Linked DNA regions of Homo sapiens. The protein of the gene in region 3 purifies or fractionates together with the protein of the main gene of each other region. This does not show direct contact. Each region holds a gene or a part of one and is shown on either strand. Other genes may lie near its edges.

Evidence for each region.
Region 1: the proteins of SMPD3 (region 3) and TMEM135 purify together in Homo sapiens (affinity purification with mass spectrometry; 2 studies listed by BioGRID and IntAct, with this or other methods). This does not show direct contact.
Region 2: the proteins of SMPD3 (region 3) and PPP3R1 purify together in Homo sapiens (affinity purification with mass spectrometry; 2 studies listed by BioGRID and IntAct, with this or other methods). This does not show direct contact.
Region 4: the proteins of SMPD3 (region 3) and ENDOD1 purify together in Homo sapiens (affinity purification with mass spectrometry; 2 studies listed by BioGRID and IntAct, with this or other methods). This does not show direct contact.

The regions. Positions count from the first base shown.
Region 1 is NC_000011.10:87,306,923-87,313,949, reverse strand, and holds part of TMEM135 (transmembrane protein 135), read right to left. Parts: intron 4,446-7,027; coding exon 4,278-4,445; intron 526-4,277; coding exon 462-525; intron 1-461.
Region 2 is NC_000002.12:68,249,507-68,256,724, reverse strand, and holds the start of PPP3R1 (calcineurin subunit B type 1), read left to right. Parts: upstream 1-4,192; 5' UTR 4,193-4,597; coding exon 4,598-4,600; intron 4,601-4,990; exon of another isoform or gene 4,991-5,122; intron 5,123-7,218. UniProt on the Homo sapiens protein: Regulatory subunit of calcineurin, a calcium-dependent, calmodulin stimulated protein phosphatase. Confers calcium sensitivity.
Region 3 is NC_000016.10:68,445,502-68,452,506, forward strand, and holds the start of SMPD3 (sphingomyelin phosphodiesterase 3), read right to left. Parts: upstream 3,008-7,005; 5' UTR 2,852-3,007; intron 1-2,851. UniProt on the Homo sapiens protein: Catalyzes the hydrolysis of sphingomyelin to form ceramide and phosphocholine. Ceramide mediates numerous cellular functions, such as apoptosis and growth arrest, and is capable of regulating these 2 cellular events independently.
Region 4 is NC_000011.10:95,092,826-95,099,852, reverse strand, and holds part of ENDOD1 (endonuclease domain-containing 1 protein precursor), read right to left. Parts: intron 1-7,027. UniProt on the Homo sapiens protein: May act as a DNase and a RNase. Plays a role in the modulation of innate immune signaling through the cGAS-STING pathway by interacting with RNF26.

The DNA.
Region 1 (7,027 bases), on a different chromosome or scaffold from region 3:
TCTATTTAATTTAATACATACATTGCACTTATAGAAAATAATATTTAGATTTTTTAATAAAATGATTAAGTTCCTTTAAAAAGTTATTATGAAAATATAGGTCACTTTCCAGTGGTAAAAATAGAATTTTCAATGAAATCTACTTGAACTTCCCTTAATCACTTATATGGCAAATATAAATATAAGGCTTTTTATATTCTTTTGTGACACATTCGCTAGGATTTATGGCCTATAGCAGGACAGATACCCAAGCCATTATATTGCCAACTCAAAACATCAGATGGCAACAGTGCCTTGATATGTTAAACATCACAAAGTATTTGGACAAGTGCCTCAACTGGAATTCTATTACGATAGAGAAAGGAAGATTCATAGAAATTGGATGAATTGGATGGTATTTCCAATTCATTCCTACCACTGATTAATACAATAATAACCATTCATTTTTATTATTGCTTTACCAGCTATAATAGCATGTAGTTCATCATCTAAGTTTCTGATCCAGCGCAGGAAGCAACTAGTACCCTAGTTAAGGAGAAAATACAATGACTTCAGTTATTTTATTTCTAGAAATAAAAGCATAAAACAAAAACAACTATAATGAATAAATTCATCAGATTACCTTGCAGGCCAATTAGTGATCTCATCTAAATCAAACTGCATACATGATTGGAAAAATTATGAACAATAATATTTTATAAAGTTATTACTCTATAGACTCTATTAAGAAATTACACATAATATTTTTATTGCACTGATTTTGCAAAATAAATCCATAAATTTCACTTTTGCCTAGCTATCGAATGCTGGGAAAAGCATCACTCCCATTTTAACAAGAACAAAAAGCTGGCTAAACTACAAGTCTGTCAGGCCACAATTCTATACCCAGAGAAAATATTTCTTAAAACTGAAGGTGAAACAAAGATTTTTTCCAGACAGATAAAAGCTGAGAAAATCCACCACCAGCAGATCTGAGTTCACAGAAATGTTAAAGGTAGAAGGAATATGACACCAGACAAAAATTTAGAACTATGAAAAGAAATGCAGAGTTCTGGAAATAGAAAAGTGAAGGTAAACTTAGAAGACATATTTTTCTTATCTTTACTTGCACTAAAAGTGAATTAACTATCTAAAATAGGGGTCAGCAAACTATGGCTCACTAGCCAAATCTGGCCTGCTACTTGTTTTTATATGGCTCAGGAGCTAATAATCATTTTTACAGTCTTAAAAAATGAAAAATAAATCAAAAGAATGACAACATCTTATGATGTGAAAATTACATCAAGTTCTAATTATAGTGTGATAAAGTTTTATTGAAACGCAGCCACACTTGTTCATTTATATATTGTCTATAGCTGCTTTCAGACTGTAACAGCAGAGCTGGGTAGTTATGACAGAGACCATATGGTCACAAAGCCTAATAGTCATGATCTGGCTCTTCACAGAAAAAGTGTGTTGACCTCTGATCTAAAACAAAAATAGTAACAACATATCGTGGAGTATATAACATATATAAAGATAAACGATAAATGTTAAATCCTATAACAAAGGATGGGAAGGAGAAATTCAAAGTACAGTGTTGTAAGGTCTGACACTGTATGTGAAGTAGTATAACATTACTTGAAGATTGGCTGATACATTAAAAATGTATATTATAAAATGTTAAGGCAGCCACTAAATTAAAGCAAGTACAAATAATAAGGCAATAGTGAAGCTAGAATGGAGCCATAGTAAAATACACAATCAATCCAGAAGGCTGAAAAAGAAAAAAAAAAAAAGAGGAAGAAAAAAAGGAACAAATACAAAAAAACTAACATGAAAGTAGGTTTAAACTCAATCACATCATAAACTATATATATTTACACATAATACATTATATGTAAACAGTATAAACATGCCAATTAGAAGACAGAGATGATCAGATTCTATAAGAAAGAAAGGGCCAACTCTCTGCAGCCTAAAAGAAACCAGTTTTTCAAACAAAGACAGAAAAAGTGAAAGAATGGAAACATTATAACATCAAACAATAATTTTGAAAAGTTGAAGTAGCTATATTAATATTAAACATAGACTATAAAACAATGAATATTACCAGAGATAAAGAGGAACCTTAACAAATTTTTAAAAAAGGGTCAGTTAACCAAGAAACAGAAAAAACAAGGTTTATTTGCCTGCTCTTCTCTTAAGATTCTTATAAAGATACTATAGCATGGGCAATTTGTTTTTGAAAAATCACATACAATTTTTGAACACACCACGTGAATATTTCCTGAGATTTTCTGACCCGGTTGTATTTTTGTTACTTTAATACCATTTGTTTGTATTACCTAAGTAAATAAATAGTAACAGAAATGAAAAATAAAAAAGCAAAACAAAACACACTCTGAGATAAGCTAGATGGCAGAGAATAACCAACCTGGGGCTAAAAATGTTGGTGATAAACCACATGTAAACAGTTAAGAGTTTATGTTAAGAATAAATACAAATGCTATAACGTGAGAAATTTTTTTAAATGTGAATATAAACATGCAATTACCAATAATCTGTCCTTAACTCTTGTATATTCAAATACATTAGTAATGCTTCTTAGTCAAACCATATTGAAAATGTTTTTAATATTAGTAATATTTCATAACAAGTGATTCATTATCTATAGTTTATTATTCCTCCTTTCCATTTCAAAATATTTTATCCATACCTACCTTTTATGAGTAAATTTTTACAGAAAACAACACTGTCCATGTTACCCTAAATAATTCCAGAATTGAGTTTTCCCATCATTAATTTTCTCTGCATTTAACAACAAAAAGTGTGTATATGTGTACGTATATATATATATATAGACATATATATATACCCACAGAATATATATTCTTCTTTCAATATATTTATTAAAATATACATTAAAACAGTCAAAGAAATAAAGTATGAATAAAATATATATTTATAATTTTTTTGTAGACAGAGGGAAGGTAGGCAAATCTCATCTACAAAAATGCACACTCCTTTAATGTCCTTAATTCATTAGTCAGACATATTGGAATGCCTGCTGCATGTTCCTACAAAATGAGACACAATCCCTGTGCTCAAAACACATATCTTTTATAGAGTAAAATTAAGGCAAAAGTGAGCAATTTGTGATTGTAGATTAAAAAAAAATCTATTTTTTTCACAGTCATAGAGGCTGGGAGTTCAAAGATCACGGTATGCTCAAGGTTCGCTCCTTCTCTCTCCATGGCTAGCAGATGGCCACCTTCTCCCTGTGTCCTCACATGGTCATTCCTCTGTGTGTGTATATGTTCTAATCTCCTTTTTTTTTTTTTTTAATTGCAACTTTTTTTTTAGATTCGGGGGATACATATGCAGGTTTGTTACAGGGGTATATTGTGTGGTGCAGAGGTTTGGGGTATGATTGATCCCAATACCCAGGCACTAGTTTTTCAATCCTTGCCCTGCTCCCTCCCTCCCTCCTCTAGAAGCCCCCAGTGACTTCTGTTGTCATCTTTATGTCCATGTGTTAGGTCAACATTAATTAACACACTTTACCATTTAGAGATTATATTCAGATTTAGAATCTTTTAAGCGTTTAATAAAATATGATTTACATATTAGTGATTCCATTATGCAAAAGGCCATCACTTAAAGTTGCAGAGTACTAGGTTAAGAATGATCTCTACATATATGTTTAGGCGTGGGCTTATATATGTATGGACACTTTTATAGGAACATACAGAATGGGGTGGAAGACTGTGAACTCTGGTTATTTGAGACAGTGTAGTAGGAACTGTGAGTGGGTGGAAGAAGGGACCTAAGTCATTGCTTATATAAGTTACAATAGAAAATCCTCACCGATTCTATCAAGTGTTTATTTCAGCTAGAAAGATCTGAAATACATTTAAATTAATAACCAGGCAGTAAATATGATAAAAAAATAAATAAGCCAGGCATATTAATATCATTTTTGATATTGGAAATATCCAAAAAATTCATATTTTCTGAGTGTCTATATATTGAAAAAGAAAATGAGTCTGACAATGTGTAATACCATATGTAAATGCAAACATGTCTACACACTCGAGTATATTAAATAATATTTTAAAAGAAGAAATTTCTGTACCCTCACTTCCCAATATATTGTATAGATTTGGTTATGTCAAGATATGTATGAATATTCCAGAAAGAAGCATTAAAAAATAAGTGAACTAAGGCCATCTCTCATTCTAACAATAGCAATGTTATTTATTTCCCATTTTTCTTTCCTCTTCTAAAAGCCTTACCTTGTATATACTAACAAAAGAGCCAAGAAAAGCTCCAAGCTGGAAGTTTTCTTTATTGTAGAAGAGAGAAAGTAGCCGAGATGGCTGTGTAAACAGATGCCTAAATGCAGAAGGGATTCGGAGGCAGCACTGGATCAAGTACCCCACGCTAAACATTCTGATGAAACCCTAGAGGAAATTTGGAGAAAAACCTGATTTACAAACAAATTTTGAAGTTTTTGATAGAATACGAATTTTACCATCTCAAAATAGAAACAAGACAAAACAAATTTAATCTAAGTTTATAGCACAGCAAAATAAAGCCTTAAAACCTCAAACAATAATTTTAAAACAATTACCTTAAAAATAAGAGTGAAATCTTGGAATGAGTTTACTTTCTTTGATTTACAAAGACTTAAAAAGTCTCACAAGCACTGGCCAAGCTTGCCTATGCACCAAAATTCCATTTCTTGACATTTTGTTGACAATAATCAGGATTTTAAATTCCTAAACCACAAATGAGTTTTACATACAAAAGCACTAAAATTCCAAAAACTACTTAATAAAACCAAATGCTCTTGAAAATGTTAACAGAAAACTGCTCTTAATGATTAGCATGAGTAGGGATTATTTTCATAGAAAAATATTTTCATTATTTTTTCAGACCTTTGGTGCTAACTTTTACAATGGTCAGGTAAGAAGAACTTCCAGGGGGCAGGGGGTGCAGAATTATGTCTAGGTTTTCATTCCTGTCGGGCTAAAACATCTCTAGGGAGGAGTAGCTTTAAAGTATATTAAACTAAACTTGAAAAAGCAAACCCACTACAAATCCATATTTGCTGTCAACATTTCTCTATATTTCCTTCAACTGTCCATAGTGCAAAAGAGATTTGGAGAGGATGACTATTACTGGTCAATTTCATTTCTGTATTTAGGAAGATGAATTTTAGATGTCTGAGAGACTGTAAGTAATTAATATTGAAACTGAAAAATTTCAATCAGCATAAAACATTAACAAAAAGAATAGTACTTTCTGTACAGTTCAACCAATACATTGTTAAAACCGGTGTCCCATCCTCCTCCTCTCTAACTCTGACTGGAATTGGAAAATATCTACACTCATAGCAGTGTATGCCCAAAAGTTAGGTTTGTATTTTCTGGACTGCAGCTTTCTTTTCCAGAAAAAAAAATTAATTACTATGAGGAAACACTGGTTAATTTACCTGAAACTACCTAATGCCTTATTAAAACACAAAATCAAATTGTCCAATCAATTACTGTGAATTCTCAAGCATTTGCTTAACTGAAATTGCCTAGTATTTAAATGAATGAAATGGTCACACTTTCATCTTGCCATTGATAACCTTATAATCTAAGGATTTAGGGATTATAATTACATTACAATCTTTTTCATGCTATTTTCAAGAGAACTATTCATCCACCCATTAATGTACTTAGAAAATATTTGCTGAATGCCTGTTATCTGCCAAACATTACACTAGATGCTGGGGATAACAGTGATGAGGAGGGCACAGAGTTCTTGCCTTTGTGGAGCTTTCATGCTCATTACTGGAAAAGAAAACAACTAAGTAAACAAATACAAAAGATTATAATAAATGTTAGGAAGGAAGTAATCAAGACACTAGGATAGACATTAACAGGGCAATCTATATTAGATTAAATGTTAAGGGCAGACATGTAAATGATATGACATTTAAATAGACCCAAAAGAGAAGAAGCTAGAATGAGAAAAACATTTCAGACAGCTCAGACAGAAAACATAAAGCCAATTAAGAGGCTGGCAGGTATAAGGAACCAAGAAAAAGTTAGTGTGAATGGAGTACAGAATGTTGAGGACAATGTAATTAATATGAGTATTTATTCAGGGATGTGATTTAACATATGGTGTAATTAAGTTTGTAAAATAATGAGGTCCATTGTCAAAAAATTTCACTACCATGTTTATGGTTTAAATTCCTCACCCACAGGTCTCCAATAGTTTTACATTCATGGATATAATACGGCATTCCAATGTATACATAAATTGCCAAGTTTACAGTACTGGTACACATTTGAAAGAATCACTAGTTTTTTATTGCTTGGAAATTCTCACTAACTTTCTCATACAATTTTTTTAATATCACCTTCCCCACGCCAAATTTCTCAAATACCTCTGATTTAATCCAAATACTCCTCTTAGTTCCCCATCTAAAGTTTTCCTTTGAACTACAATCATGTTCAGTTGGAAGGAATAATAAATCCAGGTTATCAGCTGACTTGGACTGCCAGCAATGTTACTTTTTTTTTTTTTTTGGCCACTTTAAACTGAGGCAGGAAATCAAATTTGGAAAGAGTGTCAGAAAGTATTGCACAACTGAGGAACAAAACAAAACAAAACCCTACTATTTTATCCTTGGTCATTTTGGGGAATTGTGAAGCTAAGTGTGGGCTGGGCTAACGGCACTGTCAACACTGGGCCATAGATGTTTACCTTCATGAGCACTAATGTGGGACAGTTCCTCCTTTCTAGAGTAACCACCAAGGGGCTGTCTTTTGGGGTGCTGCACAACTCTGTTCTTCTCATCATCAACTGAGTAGAGACTAAAATTGCAAGAAGAACATAAACTTTCTACAGCATTGGAACTGTTAGAGCACCATTCAAAATAAAGGAACTTGGCCGGGCGCGGTGGTTCACACCTGTAATCCTAGTGTTGGGAGGTCAAGGCAGGCAGATCCCCTAAGGTCAAGAGTTCAAGACCAGCCTGGCCAAC
Region 2 (7,218 bases), on a different chromosome or scaffold from region 3:
TGGAAACAACTTATGTAACTAATTTATCATATAATTTTTTTATTAGGAAACTCCTAATTTAAAAACTGTCCTAATTTGTATTTCATCTAAAAAGTAAGTGATAGAAGGCTTAATTTTGAACAAATTCAATATTCTTAATTCTCTTGTGGGAACTGGAAAAGTTATACAAAGTCCATAATTTTAAAAGTAATTATATGTACAATTAAAGAAAAAAACCCATCTAGTACTTGGAATACATTTTTTCCCAAATGCATTAATTCAAAAAGATACATATATTTAAGAGTATTATTTTCTACTATTGAACTTTTAGTAGCAAATACACAGAATTTCAGCTACATTGTAATTTAAGTAGGCTTTTTGCAGGAAGGCCATTGTTTATAGAACTCTTTGTGAAATGGTTTCTATGGAGAAATGAGTTTCCAAGATGGAATTTAGATCCTTGGCAAAAACCTCTGCTGCTTAGCAGGAAGGGAATGACCCACTTCTCTTGGCATCTCAGGTGCCTGGGAGCCCTTTCTCAACCACACCCTGGAGTAGGGGGCTAGCTTGCATCCCTGCGTTCTCCTCATTACAAAAAAGAATTCTGAGAAGGAAGGTGATCTATTCCCTATGCAACCTCAGTGTCCACTGAGAAGGGAATCTTGTGGTATGGAACTATGTGGCAAAAAGGTACAAAGTATTCTTACACCTGGAATTCTTAACCTGGGGCATGCATTTTATCTAAGAGGAGAGGCTGAAGTTTCCTCCAACTTTCCATTCTAAAAAGGAACAGACATTGCTTTCAAGTGGTTTTAACTGACTTTCATTTTTGATTGGCATTTTCTTCCTATGTACAAGAAGAGTAGAAAAATCAAACATAGTTTCTAGTTGATGTTAGTAAATATAATCATTACTAAAAGTGGCCATTTGGGGAGTAATACTGTAAATACCTTAAACAACTACAGAAATGGTAATTTGTTTCTCCTGAAACCCTTAAATATTATATATAAAGTAATGGCAGTGATCAGTCCTTTAAGAGTAAGGCAACTTTCTGGATGTCACTGTTATCTTAAAGGTCTACGGAGGAAATAATATCTTGTGACATTTCTAACTTCCTAATGGTAATTGTGGAGACACAGAAGTCTGAGGCTGCCTATGGTCAAACATGACTGTAAACATTACCCACTTTTTTTTTTTTTTTTTGAGACAGAGTCTTGCTCTGCTGCCCAGGCTGGAGTGCAATAGTGGTTCGATCTTGGCTCACTGCAACCTCCATCCCCCAGGTTCAAGCAATTCTCCTGCCTCAGCCTCCCAAGTAGCTGGGATTACAGCTACGTACTAAAACACCCAGCTAATTTTTGTATTTTTCGTAAAGACAGGGTCTCACCAGTTTGGCCAGGCTGATCTTGAACTCCTGACCTCAGGTGATCCACTCACCTTGGCCTCCCAAAGTGCTGGGATTACAGGCGTGAGCCACTTTGCCCGGTCTACTCTCTCTTTCTTAAAACCTTCTTTTCCTTTAATTTTCTACCTAGCAGCTTTATTATCATTTCTGGGTCTTTTCCTTCTCCTATCACTAATTAAATAAGGAAAAATTTGAAGATTTCATTTTAATCCTTTTTAAAATTGATTCCCATATCTCTATTCCTTTCTAACCTGCACTTTCAGCTTCTATTTGGGTGCTTCCACTGGGATAGCTCATCAGCAACTAAAACTTTGCATCTTTAAATCTAAACTCATCTCTTCTCACTCAATAGCCAAACTTTGGACCTCTCCATTTCTCTTAATGTTAACACTATTTCCTGTCATCAAAACGAAAACTGGTCACCTTTTATTTCTCCCTCTCTGTTCCACACATCCACTATGTTGCATAGTCAGTCCATTTTTGCTTCATGTTGTTCATACTCGCCTTTCCTTTCCTCTGCCATTGGTATCCCTTATCACCTCATGCCTACCTGTTACTAATTCTTGTAACTGGCATCCCTGTCTTAAGTGTTTCTCCCTTCAATTTATCTGACATAATTCTTTCTGATAATCATCTAAGAGCTTGTTAAATTTTCTAGGAAAAATAAGCCACAAAGATATGTCCATTACCTCTTCATTTATCTAGTTATTTAAAAACATGTATGCCTTTAGCAGGGCTATTTGGTACATACATTTTTAAAAACACATATGCTTCTGCAGGACTGTTTGGTACCTGTTCCCACTCACACTAAGCTTTACATCAAAATTTAATGGAAAGAGACAAAAAGGAGAATGACTACTTACCATACTTTTCCCCTCAGCCTTTTGATGAAAAACCTATTAAAGGTGCATTTTGGATTTACTTATCTTACTGAATTCAGACTAGTATAAATTGCCTCCAACACAACAAAATTATGGGTTATTTTAAATCCACTGTATTCCAAATAGCTCGAATTCCTTCTTAGTGCATACCCCTTAGTTAAAATAATTTGATTTTCACTGAAAATGTCCAAGGGACACAAACAAATGCAGTTAGCATGATTACCTCTGGTAAGTGGAGAGAGGAAGAATTTTGCATACAGTACTTTTTCTTAAAAAGCACGTCTTTTTATGATAAAAAACTAATTTTAAATAGTATACCTAGAAAACGTTACACATATACCCTAGGGACTTTTTCTTGTTCTGTAATATGTTAGTATCAAATAGCAACATATTTAAATCAAGAAACTTGTGGAAGAAAGTGTCCCTTCTTGGCCTTTCCTTGATACATTCACTGTGTGACACAGCTTGTTATGTCTAAGTTCTTTTCCTTATTCATCCTGACACAGAAGCAAAGTAGCTCCTGAAGGGGGAAGGGGAGGGATGGAGGGGCGGGGAGGGGGGGATTGACAGAGAGAGAAAGACAGAGAGAAAGAGAGACAGGAACCATTTAGTCCTAGGGCAAATCGCTGAGCGTTTATTAGAAAAAAATGCATGCTCATCATATGGAAAAATAATTAGCACATAAAAAGAATAAAGTTCTCATGTAAGGATCATTAAGACTTTTTTAAAAAAAAACAACACAATGGCTTTTTATAAAATGACTCAAAGGCTTTATCAATAAGGAGTTTCCGATCACTCAGAAAACATCCTCTCTCTCTCTCTCACACACACACACACACACACACACACTCTCAAACACACACGAGTGCGGGCGATTATCAAGGCTTGTAAAGGAATAACTGGTTAAAATAGTTGCAAAATGTTTTCTTCGTTATCCTCATCACACCTCTCCTGACAGCTTTATTTCTTCTCTCGAACATAAATTTCCTCCTTATGCTTTTCTGGATGTAATTTCCTATTGTAATCTGAATTTTCTGGGAAGATAATTGCCACAGGAGTGGATATAGCTCTACTAAAAGGATAAGCGGGCAATCTACATTCGAGTTTTTTTCTTTTTTTAAACAAAAACTGATGGACTCCGCCAAAGGGGAGTCTGGACGGTTTATGGGAATGCAGAGCTGGGTGGAAAGTCTTTCTGCGAGTGGGAAGTATCCCTTCTCCTCGTTTGCCCAGGTTCTCCCCACGCCTCGGGCTGCGGCCAGCTTTGGCTCGCTTCTCTGTCTTTGCAACCTGGTTCCTGACTCTGCCAATTCATATTACAGATGGGCCTGCGGGTGCTGCACCGGGGTGACAGCAGTCCTGATGGGCCGTGCAATTCTGTAGTGGATCCAAGTCGGTACACGGATGCACAGATACCTTTGACTGCCTCTCGCAGGACTTGGATTTTTCCTGTTTTTTGGTGCGGCATCCGGGTGGTTCTGACACCCTAAGACTGCTCCTCTGCTCCTCCTCTCCCGCAAGGCTTCCACTCCAGGGCCCCTGTCCCCCTTTCGCTAGCACTCGCGCACCCCTCGCGCTTCCTCCCGCCGGGGAACCCTCGCATTTCCTCCTTCCCCTCCCAGCCTTGCCTTCTTCCCCGCCCGCCTCCAGCCACATGACCGGAAGGGCTCCGCCACGCGACGTCACCGACGTCCGCGCCCCCGCCCCTGGCCTCCCCCCACCCTGCACGCAAGGGGCGGCCGGCTGAGGGGCGAACGTGGTCCGCGCGCTCAGCGTTCCCCAACCAGAGCTCGCCAGAGCGCCGCGGCACTCGCCGCCCAGCGGGGCGCGCAGGTTCCCGGATGTGCGGCGCTCGCGGAAGCCCCGCCCCCGCCCCGCGCGCTGCAGCACTCCGCTTTCCCCTCCCTCTCCGCCCTCCCCTTTTTTCGTGCCTTGAGGTTGCGGGTCAGCGCGAGCCGCTGCAGTGAGTCCGTCACGGCTCCGGCGCGAGCGCGAGGCTGCAGCCCCCGAGTTTCCCGGCCGTCTTCGCCCCCTCTCCCCCTCCTTTCTTCTTCTCTGCCTCTCCTGCCTCTCGCCGCTGCTCCTCCCGCGCTCTCCGGCTCTGAATCTCGACCTTAATTTATTTCCCCCTACCCTGCCCGCTCCCTCGCGTGCCCAATCGCCCGGCCGGCGCGGGCCCCGCGGCGCCGCCTCCCCTCCCCCACGCGCGCCCCCTCCCCGCCGGCGACCCGAGGGCCGCAGCTGGGCCGCCGCCGCCGTTTCCTGCGAGCCAGCCTGAGCGCAACACTTCTCCGAGCCAGCGAGCCAGCGAGCCGCCGACCCGCCGAGCAAAATGGTGAGACCTTGGCTTCCTCGATGCACCATCCCTCCCCCTACTGCCGCCGTCCGGGTCGGGTGCGGGGGCGAGCCCCGACGCCCCCGGTCGGCTGTCCCCCGTGGAAAATTCCAGAGACCCGGGCCCGGCGGGTCCCGCGGCGGTTGCGGGCGAGCCGGAGAGGGCGGCGGGGCGGCTGCTGACAGGACGGCGGCGGGGCCCCCGCGCCCGCCCCCGGCCTCTGCGGGGCGCCCCTCTGCTGCTCGGCCGCCGCCCCGCCGTCGCCCCACCCCCGCGCCGCCGGTCCCGCCCGGCATCGACCCCCGCGGGCACCGCTGACCATCAGCCCGGCGCACTCTCCTTCTCGCGACCCTCCTCCACGTGGAGCACCCCCCTCCCCTCCACACTCACTCTGTTTTTCGAGTTCGAGGGTATTCTGAAATCCTTTGGAAATAACAATATGTGGCAAATGGCACTTTACATAAGACCCACTTACTCTCCAGAGCTGCTGCTGCTTCCACTCACTGCCTGTTTCCCAGCAGTGAGTCTTGGCAGGGAACCCTGCCACTCACTTCCCCTCTCCTGCGAGCGTCGGTTTAGCTGCGGTGCGCAGCCCTGCGGGGTTTCCGTTCGCTGCTGCTTTGCTCGCTGCCCTGGCGAACCGGAAAGATCCAAGGTGTTTGTTCACGAAAACATACGCGAACTTGGTTTGGGAGAAATGGGGGCGCTTAATTTTTCATGCTTCCGTTACTACCAAGGGTTTTTTCATTTTCTTTGGTACCTTCTTGTGTCTCTCTCTTGGAGTGGTTGTTTTTGAATCATGGCGATTTTAATTTGTCTTTCCTTACCCTCACATTAATCCCTAGGTAGAATTCGCTGCTGTAGTGTTTCAGACCGACGCTAGGGGTGTGTCTCCCGCCTCTGTCGCTGCAGCCAAGAAATCAACGACGCCCTTTTAGCCTGTTACCTTACCGGTTCTCTCGCTCGGGGAAGCCCTAGTCGTTAGTTTCCTCTTTGTAATCAAGAGTTGTATACACAGTAGAGAAAGTTCAGAGTGCTATTCCGCGTATATCAGATACTCCATCATGCGATTCAGTTATTAGGCTTTCTCTAAAAGTCTTTGAACAGTTGTCAGAAGACTTAAACTGGTTGACGGTGGGTAATTTCTCGCATCTTTTCCACTGTATGGTATCCCACCCTGTATGTAGAATTTAAGTGCTTCAGTGTACGTGGTGGATTACTGAAGGGAGGAATGCTGTTGCTTACAACTTAAAATCGATTTGGTGAAATCGATTTTAAGGGAAGAACGTGAAATTAGAATATTCAGGTAAGTCAGCTTTTATTTAAAATATAGGGCAAATGAGTAAGTGCTTACTGGTGCACTTAAAACCCAGATTAAGAGCAGACTTAAATGATTGCCGATTTTGATGTGTAGAGAAAGTTTTTCCTTGCCAACTTGCGAGGCAGCTCAGAGAGGCAACTTTGGCACCTGAAAGTCACAAAACAATTTAGGAAGATCATAGCCATTCATCATATAATCTTTTTGTTGGCATAGTCTTTTGAAGTGAAGAATTGCATTTCAGTGCTTTAATAGAATTTCCTTATGCACATGCTTTACTTGAAGGTCAGGATCTTGAAGATCTTTGTTCATTGCAGGGAATGTTTTTACTTAGCTTTATAAACAGCACATTTGAGGAACAATGATCTAGCCTTTTGTTGTTTATATATTATACAGCGAAGTGGTATGGTTTCCAAATAGTAACTCTCTTGCGGTGCACCCCGTCCTCTGTTTTTTGAACAACAGACTGAAACTGGGAAGTTCTCTTTTAGCTCTTCAATTTCTTATTTTCCTGTTAACTCTGTTTTCTTGTCTTTTAAAATATTTTACGGTGTATCAGACGATGTTGTTTCCTGCCAGGTCATTATGTTCCTTTTCTTCCCAGCTCCCTTTTCAGTATTTATTTCCTAATTCAACTGTTGGGTTTTTTTTTTTCCTCTTTCATCCTCCCAATACCATTTCAGGACCTACATAATGTTGGCAGTGGCTTTCCAACTTTAGGGTTATTTTGGTCTGCTGAATACAGTACTGGTTTGAAAGTATCAAGACCATACCCATAACTCAACTTTGCCATATGGGATGTCGATTAACCCAAATAAATCAGGCTTTGGAGTGATCTGGTTAATTTTTCTGGTTAATTGAACATACAATTCTGAAAACTTTCACACCCTTTGGAAAATCTCTCTTAGAACTCTTATTATTTACATTCTGTCAACAGCATTTACAGTATGAAATATCACTAGTTAATTCAAGTATGGAAAGTAAAAAGGCTTATAAGATTTAAATGTACTCTCAAGGATCTTTTCTGACAGGTATTAATTTTAGTTGGTGCCTTAAACGTAGTTTATTTTTTTTTTTCCTGAAAGTTAAAGTCTTTCCCTCCCTTCACCCTTATTTGAGTTTTAAATTGTTAAGCGTCCAGGGAGAATGAAGGTTATATGTTAAAAAAAAAAATCTTGTAAATAGTGAGCTCCTAGGAATTTCCCCTGAACGAGGTGTTTTATATATGTTTTTGTTGAAATAGATAATACGGATTTTGTTCTGGATACTTAAATGAACATAATATAAAGGTAATTGTTTT
Region 3 (7,005 bases):
ACTCAACACTCTGAAGGTAGGAGGGAGCCCCCCAATAGAAAGATTTGTGATTTTACCTGACAATGCTCACACTCACTCTGAGCCTCTACACCATGGGGGAGTGTTAGTTGCCAAATTGTGACTGGTTTAACCTCTTTCCAGCAGAGGTCGCTGTGGACACTGGGAGTGGATACTTGTGGGAACTGGATCAGGCAGCCTGGGCTAGATAGATGGTGGCTACATTGTGTAGTACTTGCTCTTTCTGTTGTTCTCCTGGCCATCATCTGGTCTCTCATCCTATGGGAAGTAGATCTCTGTGAAGATTATCTCAAAGCTGCACAGTACCTTTGCTATGCAAGTGCTGTGAAATCAGGGTCACTTATTGGGGAGGGCAGGTCTGGGAGGGGCATGCTTATCCTCTAGGGGTATCACCTTGTAGTGTATGTCTGTGTTACCCTTGTTTCCTCTCTGAGGAAACAGTATTTCTGAGACACCTAGTATTTCTGAGACACTGCCTGTGACTGACCAGCAACGTCAGCGCCATGCCCTTCCAGACATGGAGGCCAAAGTGACAAAAGTTGCCTTGCAACGTAGTCCTGCACCCACATCATAAGTGACTCTGTTGATGAGTCCCCTGCCAAGCCTCACTTGGAAACACATGGTGGTGGTGAGGGGGCAGAATTCTGGTCTTTGGAGCAGCCTATTACAGTAGGATAAAGCTTCTGATAAAATGGGAAGGGCAGGGCACTGGTGAGTATGTCAGGGTCAGACCTGAGACCTCAGAAGGGCTGAAGAAGGCTCCACATAGTTGTGAATTCCCCACTTACTGGGCCTTTCGCAGGCCAGGCAGGCTAGGCACAAAGCAACCTGAAGCTACCTTCACCCTGAGGGCATCCACTCGGACCCTAGGTCATTGCTGTGGCTTGAGAGTTAAAGATGTGACTACCCTGCTCCCCACCCCCACAACATCCAAGCCCATCAGTAAATGAGTAAGTGGTTCATCTACACACACACACACACACACACACACACACACACACAGCCCGAAGCGCAAGCTCTGGCCGTGCCACACACATGAAGACTGAAACACACATGGGTACATTCATCTAGTCACACACATTCACACCCACACTCTGACCCACACCATCATCCATGCAAACCCTCACACACTTAAACACATCCCCTCCCCAGAACCAAATTTGACCTAACATGGCTGATGGGGCGTGGGAGGGTCCAGTCAGGATGTCCCTCTGGACCCTGGCCCACTCACGCCCTGTGAACTCCAGGCCCCTTGCTCAAGGTGGAGCCCCCACCTGTCCCTGTCCTAGTGGTCACAGGTCCTGAACACCCCCACTCTCGGCCCCCGAAGGGGCCCTGGTCACCATCGCGTGCACAGAATCCTGGGTGCCTGGCTGGCCTTAGGGTAGGGGGTATGGGAAAAGGGAAAGATGTGGGGGCATAGTGCCCTGCCCTGGCTCAGCCGCCTCCTCCCTCGGGATTTTCCATCCCGGCTCGCGCGGGCCCGCTAGAAGCCGGTGCGCTTTGTCTCCCGCCCCGCTCCTGGCACGTTTCCGTGGAAGCTGCCCGCGCCGCGCCCGAAGCCCCCCCTCCGCGGCCGCGCCCCCCGCCCAGCCCGCGGCGCAGGCCTGCCAGTGCGGCGACCGCCGCTTTGTCCTCTCGAGGATGCCTGGGCCGAGCGCGAAAGCCCCATGCCTTGGAACAGCCACCGCGCGTCCTGGAAGCAGGTCCCCGAGCCTCGGTTTGGGGTGCGCCCTGCATCGGAGCGGAGCAGCCCCCAAAGATTCGCGGGCACGAGGTTGGGGGTAGCGTCTACCTGGAGCTCTTGAGTGCTTGAGGGGAGACCCGCCCCGTCCCGCTCTGTACATGCCCATCTGGGATTGGCCCCCAGCTGCGGTGCCAGAGGCTCGGTCCCCGGGGCGTGGTGGGCTAGGGCGGGTCGTCTCGACTTAGAGCCCCAGGCCTGGATCCAGGTAGGGAGGGCCTGGGAGATAAGGCCCAGGTGGGGAGAGGTGGGGAGGGGTCCCTCCTGTCCTCGTACATCCCCCTACACTACCTCTCACACCCAGGCCACCCAACCCTCGGCGCGGGCCCGAGCGCGGGGGATTCCGAGTGTCAGTGCTTTCCTCCACCCGCGACTCCGAGAAGGATGGGGAGGGGTCTCCCAGCGTTTCCCTGCCACATTCCAATTCCACCCTTCACCAGTAACCTAGGAGGGTCCAAGTGGGAGGGGTAAGAGTCCTCTGTCTCTTCCACATCCTCGATCCTCCTCTTTACAAAACCCTAGGGCCAAGGGAGGAGGGGGGAATAGGGAGGGGGGCGAGTGTGGAGGAAGGGGCCTGGGCAAGGGTCTTCCCTGCATCCCAAGCAGCCCTTCCTGAATACCCCTGGGAGGGTCTGGGCTAGGGGAGCGGTCCGCGATCTCATCCATCACCACCAGACTCCTTTGTAACCTCGAGCAGCCGAAGTGTTGCGGGGAGGGGTCCCCCTGCCTCGAGTCCCTTCATCCCACAACACCTCATCCTCCCGTCCTGAGTAATCCGAGCAGCCCCGTCGCCAGGCACAGCGGGAGGGAGGGTCCAAGCCTCCTCGCTCTCCCAGGAGAGATGGGGGGTGGGGGTGACCCCCAGCCCTCGCCCCTCATACCCAAGAGCCTTCTCCATGATAAAACGAAAACTAACCCAAGCTGCTCCGACCTCCGGCGCCCGGCCACGGGAGGCCCCTAGTCAGTCGGCGGCTGTCCGGGACCCGCGGTCCTGAGAGCAACGAGAACACGTCCCGTCAACTCCCCAGCCCCTCACGCCTCGGTTCGCCCGCTCCCCAAGAAAACAAAAGCGAATTCAGCAGCACTGACCTCTGACGGCGGGCGGGAGGGCGGTCAGCGCCCGGCAGCGCACCCCGCTCCTCCCGGCTCCTCACAGCCCGGGCTCCCGGCCGCAGATCTGGCGGCGGCCGCAGCGGCGGCGGCTCTCGCGGCTCTCGGGTCCGGAGCCTCCCTCAGACTCAGCACCTGGAGCGGCGAACAGCTCCGCGCTTCATTCCTCTGACCCCGCCTCCCTCGCGCCGCCGGAGCCAATGGTGACCCGGACCCCGCCCAGGAGTCTGCCCATTGGGGGCGTCCTCCCCTCTCCCTCCGGCCCCGCCCGCAGGTTCCTGGGTCTCTCCTTCAAGACCACATCCCCCAGAGACCGGCGGAGTTTCGCACAGCCTTCTGGGACTTATAGTTCTTTAAGGACGCGGAGTGGGCTCACGCCGCGGGTAGGCAAACAGAGCGGGACTGCATTTCCCAGAGTGCACTGAAGACACGGAGGCGCGGAGCAGGGCGGGAGGACCGTTTCCATAGCAAAGACGACCAGCCGAGGATGGCTGGCGGAGGCGTGGGGCAGGCCGCAGGACCCTCGAAGGATCGTGTGAGACCCCGGGCAGCCTCTTGGGAGGCCATTTCGAGGAGAAAACCTTGATTTCTGCCTCAGGACCCTGGGCCTCAGTTTTCCTATCTGAGAAGAAGGGCGAAGAGCTGTGCCCCCGACCACACCCGTCGGTGATGGGGCAAACCGAGGGCAAGCAGGTTTGGTTCCTGCCCAGCAAAGGTGAGGGAGGACGGAGGAGACTCTCCCACCGCATTCAGAACTTTATTCCTTTATTTTTGTCTCAATCTTGTCATAGAGGAGCGCTTCACTTTTGGTCATCCCTTGGGCCACCAGGGCCTTCCCGTCTCCGTCTTCCCATCGCAGGTCCTGGCCTCCTTCACACCACTCCAGGATACCGCAGCATCTCCCCCAGCGCAGCAGACGGAGGGCGCTTCACATGCCCCCGGACCTAAGCCCACTCTCCCCTTCAAGATCTGGACTCCACTTTTTTGCAACACTCTTAACTTCTTTGGAAGCTGGGAAGCCTCCTACTCCCTTGGGCCTCTCCACCCTGCCCTCAGCTAACTCGTCGGCAAGCCCCAGCCTAGACATTGCCTGTTTTGTGAAGACATCTAGATGCTGGGCTGTCTGTTGAGTGCCCCACCCTGTGTTTGAGCAGCACCCTCTACTTCCCCTGTTCTACTTGCATGTTTATGTGCTCGTCTTCCTCATTATAAGATCCACAGGGGAGGGGCCATGTCTATATTATTCATACTTACAGTCCAGTGTCTAGTATCTGGCACGTAGTAGGCACTCACTAGCTATTGAGATATAAATATAGATATTTGTTGAATTGAAAATGAATTGGGCCGGGCGTGGTGGCTCACGCCTGTAATCCCAGAACTTTGGGAGGCCGAGGCAGGTGGATCACTAGGTCAGGAGTTCGAGACAAGTCTGACCAAAATGGTGAAACCCAGTCTCTACTAAAAATACAAAAATTAGCTGGGCGTGGTGGCACGTGCCTGTAATCCCAGCTATTCAGGAGGCTGAGGCGGGAGAATCGCTTGAACCCCGGGAGGTGGAGGTTGCAGTGAGTCGAGATTGCACCACTACACTCCAGCCTGGACAACAGAGTGAGACCCTGTCTCAAAAAAAAAAAAAAAAAAAGAGAAAAAGAATAAAATTAAAAAAAAGAAAATAAAGGAACCTCATTCACATACACCTCCAAAACTCTGATTTCCTAAAGTTGGGCATTTCTCATTGCTGGAGGTGTTCAGTTAGAGGCATGCCGCCCCCTTGAAGAAATGTTTATTTCATTTGTACAGTGGGTTGGGATTTTACCTGAATGCTTTGAGTACCCTTTTAATCCTATGATGCTAGAGATTGATAGACCCATGCCTATTATTCCTGTCAGTTCTCCCTGAAATGTCATCAGTTCTTCATGTTCCGCTATTTCTAGCTGTTGGCCCTACTCGTTTCTGTGCCTAAATGCCCTACCTCCCACTCCTTTTCTGAGAAAGATCTTCTGCCCTGTCAGTTATGAAGTAAAGATGTCCTAAGATTCCTGCTCTTTCTTTTTTCTTTCTTTCTTTCTCTCTCTTTTTTTTTTTTTTCGACGGAGTTTCGCTCTTGTTGCCTGGAGTGCAATGGCTGGAGTGCAATGGCGCGATCTCAGCTCACTGCAGCCTCTGCCACCTAGGCCCACCTTGGTCTCCCCAAGTGCTGGCATTACAGGTGTGAGCCACTGTGCCCGGCCTCCTGCTCTTCTTTCAACCCTCTGCTCAGCATCTTAGGCCTCATTGGTGATGTCCCACCTTGCTAGGTAGCATCTTTCCTGAATATTTCTCCACTAAACATTCTGATGTTGGCTAGATGGCCTAGTTAATCTACACATTTCATTTTATCACCTTCTCCAGATGTTTTTTTGTGTATGTCAGCTGATACACTCTGGGGAGAATGCCTTAATATATGGGAATAATTAACTCATGGCCAAGAAGGAAATAACCAAGGGGACTTTTACTCTGGACCTAATTCAAACCAAAGAGACAGAGCCTGAGAGAAAGCAGCTCTGTCATCCTTGAGTTAGTAACATCCAGGAAGGGAAGGCTAGGGTGGGGGAGTGAGTAAAACAGATGGCATTTAGGGAAGAACCAACAGGACTTTAAGAGGCATGGCAGAGGGGCTTTGATCCTGGCTAAACCATCAGGGAAGGCAATTGGAGCTGGGTGAACAGATGGGGTCTTATTACTGAAGAGAAAACGGTAAGGAGGCAGGGGGAAATGGGACGTGTGCTAAAGCAGAGTGCCTCATTCAGTGGATGCAGTGAGAGCAGAGGCTGTTGGAAAAGTGGATCAGGGAGGACCATGCCACCAGGTGGGCATCAGCAGAGTATCACCCGAGTATTGCAGAGGGATACCAAATAAGTCCACCTGAAGCCAGAGCTGAAACCCTGTGGAGGTCCGTTTACCCCTTCAGAAGTAGTGTACCACCATCCATCTACCACTGGAATCCAATTTCAGTTTTGGCAAATTGTTATAAATAGGAAAAAGTCAGGGTTCCACAATTCTGGCAGCACCCAGAGACTATAACAGCATCTGCACAGCCAAGTAGAGTTAGGAAACCTGGATCCTAATCCTGACTTTGCCTCTGATTAGATGTGTGATCCTGGGCTGGAGCTGTTTTTTCAGTTGTAAAATGCTGTTTATTGGTGTTAGGTAGCAGCTAATAAGGCTGGAGGTGGGGCTGGGTGTAGTGGCTCACACATGTAATCTCAGCAGTTTGACAGGCCAAGGCAGGAGGATTGCTGGAGGCCAGGGATTTGAGACCAGCTTGGGCTACATAGTGAGACTCTGCCTGTACTAAAAATTAAAAAAAAAAAAAATAACTCAGTGCAGTGGCGCATGCCTGTAGTCCCAGCTACTCAGGAGGTTGGGGTGGGAGGGTTGCTTGAGCCCAGGAGTTTGAGGCTGCAGTGAACTATGATCAATCACACCACTGCATTCTAGTAGCCTGAGTGACAGAGCAAGACCTGTCTCTAAAAAAAAAGAAATTTTTTTTAAGGGTGGAGGTAGGGAAATTCAAAGCTACTTACTAGCTGTGTGACCTTGCCTAAACTACCTCCTTGGATTTGCAGTCTGTTTATTTGAAAATGTCATAAGGGATAAATGAGATTCCTTATGTAAAGTACTTTATAAATATTAAGCACTTACCAAATGTTAGTCTGTTTTCACATTATTCTTCTTGGATTACCAGAAATTGGTTTGACCATGAATAAACAGGAGATAATTTCTTGGGTAATCTGAGTTTGAATCCCCTTTCTCTCTCTTACTAATTGTATGACTTTGATTAGGTTATTTAATATTTAATTGTTCTGGGTCTCAGTTTTCTCATTTGTGAAATTAAAATGTGTTCTTCAGAATTGTGAGGGTTAAATGTGATAAAAGGCCTGACTCATATGAGAAAATGCTCAATATATTTGTTTTGTCATTTTTAAGGGGTGGTTTTAGGGCACAGAACCCTAAAGGAATGAATGGAATTCTAAATACTTCGAAGCTAGAGTAGTGAAAGATTCCAGGGGAACACAGTGCTGGCCTTCTCCCTTCTTCTTGGGGAAGAAAAGATCTCAGTGAAGTTCCATGGGTCTTCTCAGTAAGTAAAG
Region 4 (7,027 bases), on a different chromosome or scaffold from region 3:
AACACTAAGATAACAGCAAGCAGATTTCCTGAAACCAGTGCTGCCATCTCACAAACATAGAGGGAAGGCACATTTACCAAGCTGTGATAAAGTCGGTATAGGGACAAATGCAAGAACCTGCAAAGATGAAGGACTTTAACTTACTAAACAGTCATAAAGGAAAAAGGAATTTTGGCACGTTCAAGGAGGTATACGTTCTGAGTTAGAGCAAAGTCCCTCCTCTTGTCCCAAAGTAGGACTTACTGCATTACTGGGTTATTAAGTTTAAGTGTTCTGCTGGTCTTCCTTCCTGGGAGCCAAGCTGGCTGCAGAGAAGGAGCTCCTGAACAGACTAGGGCTGGATGATGGATGTGTGGGTCTGCCACCTCTGCTCAAGGAGCGGAGCTCTGGAGGGTGTAGTCGGCCTGGGCACCTCCTTCCCACCCCTAGGGACAGCTGGCATTGAGACAGGAGATGGGCTCTCCTCAGGCTCATGCACCACATCCAATCCAACAGCCTGTCTGGCAGCAATGTCTCCATACGCCCAGAGATGCAAGACTCTATCCCCTACCCTCTTATCTCCGCTACTCACTGAGATGCAGGGGACAAAATCTGTTGCTCAACAGAGTTAACACAGTTTTTGGGTGATCCATTTTTCCCAGCTCTAACCTGGTGCCTTATGGAAAATGTCTGCTTGCATAAGGATAATAGGAAGAGCTCAAGATGGATCAGTATAGAACAAGACTGTACAAGGGGGCAGAGCACCCTCGGCCCAATGGAGTACTTGCAATAACCCCACCCTTCCTATAGCCACAAAGGTACACCTGGAGGTGGTGAGCCTCTGATATTCATGGGCGTGTGACTGCCAGAGCTAGAAACACACCCTCTATAAAATCCTGGTAAATGAACATGTGAACTTTTAAAAGATAAACTTCATTCAAGAGCATTCAATAGGAGCTCACCCAACACATCAACAGGTTTGCAACAGAAGCAGTCCATGTGTGCTCTGGTGTCAGACAGCTCAGGTTCAAACCCGAGCCCCACCTCTTCTTAGCTGTGTAAAAATGCAATAGTAGTTTAACCTCTCTGGGCCTGTTTCCTCCTCTAAGAAGGATAATAATAGTACCTATTTCTGACGATGCTGAGGATTACATGAAATTACATGTGAAAAAAAAAACACTAGAAAAGTGCCTCCTGCCATATGATAAGCATCCAATGAGCTCTAGACTGTACTTACTTGAAGGTCAATTGAATACCTGAAGGTATCTCGCACTCAGAGTGCCCAAAACGGAGTACCTTTTCCTCCTACAGCTGTATCAAAGTATAACTGATATACAAAGAATTGTACATATTTAATGTGATGAATTAAATGTGCAATAAATATGTAATAACCCATCACATAATTAATGTGCTGGGTTTGGATGTATGCAAATACCCATGATACAATCACAACAACCAAGGAGGGAGACATGTCCAACACCTCCCATACTTTCCTTGTGTCCTTTTGTTTGTTTTGTGTGCGTATTAAGAAAACTTAATATGAAATCTACTCTCTTAACAAATTTTGAAGTGCACAATACAATATCATCAACTATAGGCATTACATTGTACAGCAGATCTCTAGAACTGATTTATCCCATGTAACTGAAACTTTATACCCATTAAACAAGAGCTCCTCATCTTCCCCACCCCTCAGCCCCTGGTAGCCACTATAGGTTGAGCATCTCAGATCTGAAAATCCAAAATCCAATATGTTCCAAAATCCAAAGCTTTTTGAGTACTGACATGACATTCAAAGGAAATGCTCATTAAAGCATTTCAGATTTCAGATTTCCAGATTTGGGAGGTTCAGCCACTAATTCCAAAATCCAAAAAAAAATCTTCAAACTGAAACACTTCTGGTCCCAAGCATTTCAGATTAGGGATACTCAACCAGTATTATATTCTTGCTCTTATGAACAAAAGCGAGTTCTTGATATGGCCCCCAAACAGCCCCTCCTTTTGTATCCTTGTCTTATTCATGACAACTCCATTCTTCTGATTATTCAGGCCCAAACCCTTGGAGTCATCTCTTCCCTTTCTCTCACTCCAAAGACTATGAGCTCTTTCTTCACAATATATCCAGAATATACAGTGCTATCATCTTGATCCAAGATACTACTGTCTTGTCAGATCACTGAAACCTCCTAACTGGTTTCTTTGCTTCTGCCCTTAACACCACATGTCTATTCTCAATGCAGCAGCCAAAATGGTCCTATTTAAATGTAAGCCAGATCACATCGAAGCTCTCTGCTCAGAACCCTGCACAATTGCTTCCCACTTCACACACAGTAAAACCCCAATATTTTACAAATAGCTCAGAAGAATCTAAATGATCTGCCGTCTCCTTCCCCACTTCTCTGACCTCATCTCCTGCTACTCTCATTTACTCTTCTCTAGCCAAACCAGCCTCTTAGTTCTTCCTCAACACACTCATGCCTCCAGGCCTTTGCAATTACCATTCCCTTTACCCAGAACGTTTTCCCCCTCTATAGATGCCTGCATAATTGGCTTTCTTACTTCTTTCATGTCTATACCCAAAAGTCAACTCCTCAGTGATCTCTTCCCTGGATGGAAACCTTGTTTTAAACTTCACCTTTTCCTTGATATCTCATAGCCTCCTTCCTTGCTTTTTCTCCTTAACACTTATCACTGTCTAATATGCCTTTTTTTTTTTTTTGAAACAGGGTCTTACTCTGTCCCCCAGACTGGAGTGCAGTGGCATGATCTCAGCTCACCACAGCCTCTACCTCCCAGGCCCAAATGATCCTCCCACCTTAGCCTCCATGAGTAGTTGGGACTACAGGTGCATGCCAGCACTCCTCGCTAATTTTTGTAGAGATGGGTTTTTGCCATGTTGCCCAGGCTGGTCTCGAACTCTTAGGCTCAAATGATCAGACCGCCTTGGCCTCCCAAAGTAGTGGGATTACAGGCATGAGCCACCATGCTTGGCACCTTGTCTTTTATTTATTTATTTTATAATCTATATTCTCTATTAGATATAAACCCTATGAGAGTAGGTATTTTTGTCTGTAACCACTGCTCTCTTTCCAGGACTTAGAATAGTGCCTCACACATAGCAGATGCTCAATAAAGATTTGTTGACTAAAATGAATTGACAGAGGGCTCAGGGCTTTCTTAAAGCATTAGGTGTCCCTGCCAACTGGAAGTCAATAAAAACTGAAGACCAATCAGCCCTTAAAGTATAAGTCAACTGAAACATGTAATTACATTTATATTTTCAAATAATATTTCAGCCATCTGTTTATTCTACAAAGTAAAATGTACCCGTATTTTCAGCTTTGATTAAAAATATAAACTACCCTCTGTTTGACCTTTTGATTGAGCCACACTTCTGTTCAGCACTAGGTCAATGAAGCATGACTGGAATATTAAACGGTGCTTCTATTCTTGGTTCAGCCTATGAGTCAGTTTCTTTTTCATTTCTCCTTCCTTTCAGTGGCCAAATAGATATATCGACAGGCAATGAATTATTACTATGACAGATGTTAAGTTTCATGAAAATGAAAGGGTAAGTCACCATTCAGAAGATATAACATGCATCTTGAAGGAGGAAATTTGAAAAAAAAAAAAAAAAAAAAAAAAAGCTTTCTTGACTAACAGTAATTCTAGAAGATAGACCAGATAACTGAAAACAAATGCTACTGGCAAATAAGAGGATTTACTTTCTAAAATTTTCACTTTCAGAGATGAGAGTTTAAAAGGAAGAGAAATTTTATGCCCAAAGAATAAAATCTCAATTCCCTAAGGAAAGCTCCATTCAATCACCATGAATCACCAGTAACGGAGCTAAAAGAAATCTGAAGCTGGCATTTACATACAGAATGGTATGTTAGTAGTGAAACCATAAACCATCCAAAGAACTGGATTAAAAATAAAATAACAAGTCTAGTCAGCCAGTTTGGATTCTGGAGAGAAAAAACTAACATTTTAGTTAGAAAATAGTGTGATAGAGAATAAAGAGAGTTAAGAGCTTTGGATTTGGGCAGTCATAAACTCCTGTCCAGGTTTTGCCATCTAGAAGCTGTTTGACCTTGGATAAGTTACTTAACTACTCCGAACCTCAGTTTCCTAAACTATAAAACACAAGTCATAATACCTAGAGTTGTTATAGAGATGAGATGAGTTAGAATGTGAAGACCTTTGACATGGTAAGGGATCAATAAATGATAGTTCCTTGCCTAGATTGTCCAGATATAAGTCTAAACTGAAAGAATAGTATAGGGAATTGTCACCACTGGACTGCTTCAGGACAGATGTCCCTGAAATATTCTGCCAACGCAGGTAAATACCTTAACTTGATCCTGAGAATGGCCTGCAAAACAAAAGGAAACACTAAATCCAAAGATGAAGAAAAAGCCAGAAGGGAAAAATTCAACAAAGGTTGGAACCATCCCCTGGGTCAGGCACTTCCCAGTCTTATCCAGTCTCAGCACAATAGACTGGAATGCCATTGCTCACTGTTTTCTGACAACACACTTCTTGGTTTTCCAGGACAGAGAGGGTGGAGATGTCTTTGGTACCTGTTTGGTTTGTTTTTGCTTTTAATCACTCAAATCCACCCTCCATCCATTCATTCAATCTTCCACACATTTCATCTCTCATCATGCATTTATGAAGCAGCTACTGTATGAATGTGGGACATACACCAAGCATTTGAGAAGATACATGGATAGATATTTTACTTTTTAGGAGAGATTTGCAGAATTGTAGATGTCACCTATCTAATCCAACATTCCATTTGTGTGTGTGTGTGTGTGTGTGTGTGTGCGTGCACACGCCTAGCACCTACTGAAGTAACACCTTATATACATATTAATATTTACTAAGAGTTTACCATATTCCAGGTACCATGCCACATGCTCTCATGTGTTATCTTGTTTATTTGTCACAACCTCTCTATAAACACTTTTACAACCTTTAATGAACAGATCCAAAAAATGGGGCTGGAAGTCACATAGCTTGTAAATGGAAGAGCAGGGATCTGAATTAAGTCTCTTAATTAAGGAGTAAGAATCAGGATTGTCCTGTTCACTGCATTCCTTACACAGAGATTTAAGTGTATGATGCTCTATATATCTGTTCTCTGACACAATGAAAAGAAGGCTGAGGTTGGAACAAATTGAACAGTATTTCTGTTTCAGGTTGTATAAGCCATGGATGGAAATTAAAAATCAAGGACTTAATCAAGGTTCTAACTTGAAACAACCATTTGCATTTACTAAGATCTGAAGTAAGACCTCACTGTGCCCTCCAGGAAAATGTTTTTGCAGTTAACCAGAATATCCCCTTCATTCCAGAGTAAAGTGACACTTGAGCAACCTTTATGCAGCCAAGTAAGTGCTCCCACTTGTCCTATGACTGTCAGAAAATAGAAGTGGAGTAGAAATTAGAATTCTCACATAAAAGATGAAAATTAGAGTCCTAAGACCATTAGCGCAGTGGATCCATTGTGAGATCAAAGAATCTCCACAGTGTATCAGAAGAGTAATCAGTAATGAGTTCAAAAATAAGCTGTGTGACCCTAAAACACCTCAGTTAACCTCCCTTAGCCAGTTTCCTCCTTTCTACAATGAAGATAATATCTACCTCACAGTATTTTTTAAGATTGAACAAATATACACTATTGTTACTGAATATATAAATTATATATTATATAATTAATATGTATAATATATTAATTATATAATTTATATATTCAGTTCCTTCCATGTTTATAAAATGATAGAGCTTTATATGTTGGCTTCTGGCATAAATCAGCAATGCACTTTAGAAAGGTATCATTGGCATCTTATCTAAAAATTCTTCCATTAAGTGGAAAGGAGTCAACAAACTAAAAGGTTTGAGGCTTCCTGCACTAAACCAGAATCCAGTTCTCAGGTTTCTGGAGTCTTGACTAGAACTCCTCCAAACCATCTCCTGTAGGCAGAGCAGAGATCAAAATCATTTGGGATAGTTTCAAAGGCCAAAGCTAAGACTGATGGAGTGGCTGCAGAGCAGGGTTCCAGCTCTGCATAGGGAGCATGTTTGTAACAGTTGCTGCTGGCCAGCCCTGGTGCAAGCTTCTGAAACAGGAAGCGCCCCACTGAGAAAACTGAAGCAGAACATCTCACCTGCTCCTGCCTGATTGATCCTCCCAACATCAAATTATTTTATTCAACACTTATCGCGTGCTTTCTATAAGCTGGGCACTAGGAAAAGAATGAGTAAGATGCAATCATCATTCCTCAAGGGCTCAAGTTGGGGAGACAGATACATAAGCAGATAATTACAAAACAACATGGTAAGTATGAAAATAGAAAAACTATAAGAGCACTGAAGGGGTGAACCTAACTTGGGAGGTGGATACAGTTCAGGTGGGGAATTCTTTCTGGAGGAGGTGACACCTCAGCAGAGTCTTAAAGGATGGAGTAAGGGCAGGAAGTGAAGGATAAGATGGGGTCTGTGTAGAAAGGGAATTTGGGCAAAGGGAATCAGCATGAGCTAAGAAACAGACATCACAAACAGTCTGGTTTATGAGAGGAACTCCAGGCAGCTGGATAATGCTAGAACATAAAATATGAGGGTGGAGCATGGTGAGAAACTAGATTGGAGCTGGAGACAGGAGCTAGGCTATGGAGAGCCTGTAAACTGCATTCTGCAGTGTGAACTTTGTCCTGTAGGGGCTGGGCAGGCAACACTTTACAGATTTTCAGCACAAGAGTGACTAAGTTTCTGTGATCTTTGACTTAGGAGATTCTTTTCAAAGGGAAACTGCAGTGTGGACTCAAAAGCTGCCGAACTGGGCTTTGGGAATTCAGTGTCACTGCTGCCCTGCCTGACTCATCACTGGAGGCAAGCACTGAGTTCCTTTGGTCTCCTGCCTCTTCCTCCCCTGTGTGCGGGTCCTCTTGGTAACACTGACCTCATAAAAAGGTGATGTGGGTACAAGGAGACTCAGCATTATAAAATGCTTGGAAGCCGCCAAGGGTACACATTGAGCCCTGAG